2 linked regions of the Homo sapiens genome follow. The protein of the gene in region 1 purifies or fractionates together with the protein of each later gene. This does not show direct contact. Each region holds a gene or a part of one and is shown on either strand. Other genes may lie near its edges.

Region 1 (3,383 bases):
GCTGGAGGTGCTTAGAATAAAACACTGGTGGTGGGGCTTCTCATTCTGGTTAATTTCCTCAACGCCTTTGGAGACAGGTCCAAAATGCAGCTTTGGGAAGCAACTCCGGAGAGTCCCCTGGGAAGAAGAGTATGTCCGAGGACTCAGTCACTTGAGACAGAGTCTGGAGCTGGACTCCTTGAACTGTGTTTCTGAGCTGCAGACACCAAATACCTCCTGGATACAGGTGCCTGGCATGGCTTTTCTCATCTAATACTGACACGTCCCTGTGGCCACAGAGTGTCATAGCCCCATTTACAAATGACATAGCTGAGGCCCAGATGGGGAAAGTAACTTGCCCAGCATCACACAGCTAATCAGTGGCAGAGTTAAGATCTGAACCTGGCTCCGTCTGGCTCCAGAAACTCTGTTCTTCTATTTGGAATTTATCTGTGGAGATTATTCTAGTATATTGATAGCCTACATTTATTTAGCACTTTTTATATTATGCACTTTACATATGTTTTCTCATTTAATCATTACAGCAACCCTGAGTTAGGTATGGTTATAACTTCCCTTTTACATAGGAGGAATCTGAGGCTTAGAGAGGTTAAGTAACTTGCCCAAAGGTACCCAGCTAGTCTCTGCCGGAGCTTGGATTTGAACTTCAGTTTGCCTGGCTCAAATGAGGCTGCAGAGTTGGGAAGGACTTAAAAAGTTTGGAGATTTTTGCCATAAATATTGATTTTTCTGCAAATGAGGATGAACATCTTAATGGCCTTTAAGAAACTTTGCAAATAGTTTTCAAAAATGATGCAACATGGCAGAGAAAATGCACTTGGCTTCCAGCTCCCTCAACAGCCATTAACAGCCTCCTACCGTGGCTCCCACCTCCTATGTCTCCAGAGATCAAGGCAATGGGGAGGGAAAGCTGGCAGGAGGCAGTCCCTTGTGGGCCTGAGGCCCTTTGGCTCCTAAGTGTCCACATTCTGTTCTCTTCCAAGTCCCTTCATTGTTAAGCTGATTCTCCAACAAGATGCAATGAACAGATGCAATGTCTACCCCGCGCTGGGCGAGTTCCCGAGGCCATGGGCTGTTTGGAATCACACTTCATTAAGAGACAAACTGTTCCTTCCCTTATTGTGCCTTAATGCTTATGACAAGGCAGCTCTGAATTGATCCCAAGCTGGAGCCTCTGAATGCTTTAAAGAGTTTGAATATAGACGGTTTGAGAGCAAAAAGGGAGCTTTAAATATTGCTCAGTGGCCCCCATCTCCCCTCTTCCCACATTTACTGAGGCACGAGATGGGATGGGACCTGTCCCGGGTCACAGCAGCAGTCGTCAGCGCCTTGGCCCTCCTGGCTTGTAGGATGCTGCTTTTCCTGGGCTTCTGGCAGTCCAGGCCAGGATGGGGGAGCCAGGAATTCATGTTGTCATTGGAAAAGCTGATAAACAGGAGCACAATTCAAACCGGCTGTTTTCCTCCTTAGAGTCTGGCCTCCCTCTTTCTGGCTGCTCTGTGGGTCTTCCTGTTCTGACTTAGGTTCCTGTCAAGTACTTAAATGCAGCCTTAACATCCCATACAGTCTTGTCCCCACAGCTTCATGTGAACATCTCCATGGGTCATGCATATATCGTCCCTGCAGTGTGCAAAGTGTGCTCACCTGCACTGCTGCACAGGCAACCAACATACTTAGTGCCCAGAGCCTTCTCTCTGGGCCCAGGACTCAGTGATGGGGCCTTACTTAGCCCTGCCTCCTGGGTGGGGTGGGGGAGCTGAGGGATCGTGAGGACAAGAGGTAGAGGGAAAAGAAAAGAAGATGGTGTTTGAGGATAGGGGAGGGACAGGAGAGGGGACAGAAAGGTCCCAGAGCATGATGATGAAGGAAAGGGATCTGGCATTCATGAAGCACCTACGATGGTTCAGGCACAAACACTGAAACCTCAAATTGGCCCTGGCAGAAGGGGACCATCATAGCAAGGTGGGGGGGGGGTGCAGAAAGTGAGTTTCTGTTTCAAGAACAGACTTCACTAGTTCAGAGTTGCACAGCTAGTGAGGTATGGAGCTGGGCTTTGAATCAGGTCAGCTGCCTGAATGCCCAACTTCTTCAGCCCTTGGAAGGAGAGGGTGGGGAGAAGAAGAAGGAAAAGACAAGGAAGAAAGAAAGAAGAGAGAAGGGGAGAGGAATGGAAGTCCAAAGAGTGGGAGGAATTTGATTTCAGAACCATCTCCAGCTGACCCTTGAGCCAGCAAGGACAGGGAGAAGGGAAGAGCAAGAACACGAAGGGCCTCAAGCACCGGGATGCCTTTGCCAGCCTTAGATAATTCCCAGAGCGCACAGAGCCCTGCAGGTTCCTGGGTCCTTCTCCAGAGAAGAGGCACAGAGATTCTGGCAGCAAGGTTCAGAAGGGGTGAGGAAACTGGGCACTGACAAAGGGAGGGGATTGGCTCAAATTCGACCCCAGAGTCAGCTCTGGTGGGGTTGGGAGCCTGGATGGGTGGGAGAAGATAGAATCCAATCGTGAAAACCATAAGGGACCTTCAAACTCATCTTGCCCAGATGTCTCCCATTTCACAGATGAGGGAACTGAGGTTTTGAGAGCTTCCCCTGAGGACTCTGCAAAACGAGGTGGTGTCTGGTTTGGATGAAAGTGGTCGGTGATTCCTCAACTCCTGCCCTGCCTCCCTCTCTCGTTCCTCCCTAACATGTTATGCTCTTGTTGGGGCTGGGATGCCCTAGGCCCAAGGTTACCAAATCCTGGGTTTGGAAAATTGCTGCTGGGGGTGGTATCTAGGACCAGAGAGGAATCTACTATTTCTACTGTGAAATAATTCAGCAGGGGGTCTTCTTACTTCTTCCCTTTGAGGACAAAGTTTCTCTCGAATAAAGAGACTGAAGCAAGAGTGTGTGGCTCAGTTCTGGGGGTTCCTGCCATCACCTCCCTTTTGCCTTCCTCACTTACTTCACAGAACAGCAGCTGAGGCTCAGAGAGGTGAGGCGGCCAGTGCAAAGTCACAGAGCTATGTTGTGGGCAGCAGGAGAAGCCCTGAAGTCCCCAACCTGCCATTCTCAAACCTTCGAGCTCCAAGAAATTTGCATTTTGAAAAAAATTCTTTTCACTTATTTTGCTTTTCTAGCAACTGAGGATGTGAAAGAGGTAGTTACTCACCCAAGATAATATAGTAAACCCTAGCAGATAAGGGACATAAAGCCAGGCCTCCTCATGGTCAGGTCTATACTCTTTGGCACTGCATCAGGTGGCCCAAGGACAGATGCTCCTGTGACACATTCATCCATTCACCTTTTCACCAACCCATTCACCCTAACATCCACCCACCTATCCACCCACCCATTCACTCCAAGATCTACCCATCCACCCATTCACCCCAAGATTCACCCAC
Region 2 (3,500 bases), on another chromosome or scaffold:
ATGCAAAGGACTCTCTGAGTTCCACAAATCTGAAATTCTCCCTTAAAACCCCAGTAGCCCGACTATAGCTGAATAGAGGGTATTTTCATTTGAATATCCAGATAACATCTCATCCTTGTCTAATTTCTAGGTTATCTAATAAGAGTGTCACCATTTTCTTGGTGGTCCTTAAAAACTTCCTCTTACCCAACTGGGACTTCTCTCTTCCTCATCTTTCATAGCCAGTCCATCAAACCCTTGTCCAGTCTTTCTTCCTACCACCACTTACTTAGCTGTCTTTTTTTTCCTTTTTGTATTTTTGTTTTATTTTTAATTTTTGTGGGTACACAGTAGGTATATATATTTATGGGTTATATGAGAGATTTTGATACAGGCATGCAATGTGTACTAATCCCATCAGGGTAAGGCTGGGCACAGTGGCTCACACCTGTAATCCCAGCACTCCAGGAGGCCGAGGCGGGAGGATTGCCTGAGGTTGAGTTCAAGACCAACCTGACCAACATGGAGAAATCCCATTGCTACTAAAAATACAAAATTAGCCAGGCGTGGTGGCGCATGCCTGTAATCCCACCTACTCAGGAGGCTGAGGCAGGAGAATCGCTTGGACCCGGGAGACGGAGGTTGCAATGAGCCAAGATTGCGGTATCACACTCCAGCCTGGGCAACAAGAGCAAACCTCCGTCTCAAAAAAAAAAAAAAAAAATCACATCAGGGTAAACGGGGTATCCATTACCTCAAGCATTTATCCTTTGTGTTACAAACGATCCAGTTATACTTTTTTAGTTTATTATTATTATTATTTTTAGACGTAATCTCGCTCTGTTGCCCAGGCTGGAGTGTAGTGGCAAGATCTCGGCTCAGCGCAACCTCCTCCTCCTGGATTCAAGCAATTCTCCTGCCTCAGGCTGCGGAGTAGCTGGGATTACAGGTGCCCAACACCACCATGCCCAGCTAATTTTTGTATTTTTAGTAGAGATGGGGTCTCCCCGTGTTGGCCAAGATGGTCCTGAACTCCTGACCTCAGGTGATCCTCCCACCTCGGCCTCCCAAAGTGCTGGGATTACAGAAGTGAGCCACTGCGCTCATCTCTAAAACACACAGGAATAATTTAAAACAGGACTATATAAGGCTTCCAGTGTCTGACAGCCAATCTTTCATATTAATTCTTACTTCCAGTGCGTTATAACTAGAAGACTGATACAACTTTACCATAATAGACCATTCAGCATACTGGAGAATGAGCATCACACCTAAATTACTTATTGCCAAGAAAGATCAGCACAATTTGGATAAAAGTAGCTGAGAGCTGTGGTATGATTCCCCAAAGACCATGAGTGGGATGGTCGCTGAGGCACATATATTAATGCTTATAACAGGCAGGGGAACTCTACAGCTGTATACTACTAGGGCAGGAAAAAAATATCAAAGACAGTTTTTGGTATTTTTTTGATATCAAAAAAAAAAAAAAGACACACACAGTAAAAAGTGTTGGCAAGGATGTAGAGAAAATGGAACCCCCAATACACAGTTGATGGGAATGTCAAATAGTGCAGCTGTGGCTGGGCACACTGGCTCACACCTGTAATCCCAACACGTTGGGTGGCTGAGGTGGGAGGATCGCTTGAGCCCAGGAGGTCGAGGCTGTAGTAAGCAAACATCACGCCACTGCACTCCAACCTAGGCAACAGAGTGAGACTCTATCTCGAAAAAAAAAAAAGTGCAGCTGCTTCTGAAAACACTCAGGCAGTCCCTCAAAAGGTTAAATATAGAGTTACTATATGACTCAGTGATTCCACTCCTAGGTATTTTGCCTCTTTGTCCTGTGGACTACTGTACTTCATCTCCAACAGCATAAAGTATAGTGGTCTGAAAATAGCAAATAATCTATCTGTTGATTTTTTAAACCTTTTTAAATAGAAGGTAAACTTGTGACCAGCAGACAGCCAACCTGTCACTGCAGTTACCAGGGCAATAAATATACATGATCTTTGTCTTTATTTTATAATTATATTTAAAAAAGAATCTCCAGTGTTTCTGTTTGTTTTTTTGAGGCTGGGTCTCGCTCTGTTTCCCGGCTGGAGTGCAGTGGTGCAATCTCGGCTCACTGCAACCTCCGCCTCCCAGATTCAAGTGATTCTCCTGCCTCAGCCTCCCAAGTAGCTGGGACTACAAGCGCATGCCACCACGCCCAGCTAATTTTTGTATTTTTAGTAGAGATGCAGTTTCTCCACGTTAGCCAGGGCTGGTCTCGAACTCCTGACCTCAGGTAATCCACCCACCTCAGCCTCTTAAAGTGCTGGGATTATAGGCATGGGCCACCACGCCCGGCCTAAAAAAAGAATCTTTGGACTTGACTTCATAGAACCTTTTACCACTATCTACAAAGAAGCCATGCCAAAGCTGGCTCTTCTAGCAGGTTTTCATTTCTAGTAGAGATGACTGACAGTATGGTCTGGTATAACATTAAGATCCTCATTCTCAAAGATTCGAGTCCCCATTCTCACTCCCAAAGTTGTGTTTCACTTAAGTGAAACTACAGGTAGACTTAGCTGTGCTAAAAGTCTGTCTGGGACTAGCCCGCAGCAGAAGTGCAAGTAATCTGTGTTCCCAGCTCAGAGCTCACTTTAGGGCGTTGGTCTATGGAACTGATCATGGGAGAGTACTACTAAGCTTGAAAGAGGCCAGGTGCGGTGGTGTGCACCTGCAGTCCCAACTGCCCAGGAGGCTGAGGTGGGAAGATCGCTTCAGCCCAGGAGTTCAAGGCTGTAGTGCACTATATCACACCTGTGAATAGCCATTGCATTCCAGCCTGAGCAACACAGCAAGACTTCATCTCTTAAAAAAAAAAAAAAAATTCAGAACCCATGTTCAGTATATTAAAAAATGAAAAAGAAAACAAAAAATTCGACCCCAGGGTACCCACCCTCTAGAAAAGAGACACAGATATTTTAAAGCTTTTCCCTCACTCAGATTCTAGTTTCATGACCTTTATAAAATCATTCCCCCATATCCACTCCTTCCCTCACCTCTACTGCTGCCATTATCTTTTCATGTGCATCCCATCTTCCTCCAAACCCTACTTTATTTTTTTCTGTTCTTTTTATTCTAACTGCACTTTACAACATCATACTTAAAAAACAGCCAATGAATGGTCCTGTCCCAAAAAACTAGACATAAATAAAAATGAAATAAAACCTAAAAATGTAGTAGAGCAGCAACCCACTAATATAACAATTACAGGCTTGTCAAGATTATCCCAGCGGTCTTCACAAGAAAGTATGCTATGTCTAATAACCCAACTATAAAATTATATACTTCAGGGTTTCCATTGAGCTCATTTTGAACAAACTTCCTAAATTTATTAAATAAAAAATTTTGATTAGTTACCTAATTTGCAGCTTTTTTTTTTTTTTTCTTGAGACGGAGTCTCGCTCTGTCGCCCAGGCTGGTTGCAGTGGCGTGACCTCAGCTCACTTCAAGCTCCGCCTCCCGGCTTCACG

Evidence for each region. The genes of interacting proteins can lie anywhere in the genome.
Region 2: the proteins of CMKLR1 (region 1) and CNIH4 purify together in Homo sapiens (affinity purification with mass spectrometry; one large-scale study listed by BioGRID and IntAct). This does not show direct contact.

What each region holds. Positions count from the first base shown.
Region 1 is NC_000012.12:108,287,546-108,290,928, reverse strand, and holds the end of CMKLR1 (chemerin-like receptor 1), read left to right. Parts: 3' UTR 1-2,883; downstream 2,884-3,383. UniProt on the Homo sapiens protein: Receptor for the chemoattractant adipokine chemerin/RARRES2 and for the omega-3 fatty acid derived molecule resolvin E1.
Region 2 is NC_000001.11:224,366,879-224,370,378, reverse strand, and holds part of CNIH4 (protein cornichon homolog 4), read right to left. Parts: intron 1-3,500. UniProt on the Homo sapiens protein: Involved in G protein-coupled receptors (GPCRs) trafficking from the endoplasmic reticulum to the cell surface; it promotes the exit of GPCRs from the early secretory pathway, likely through interaction with the COPII machinery.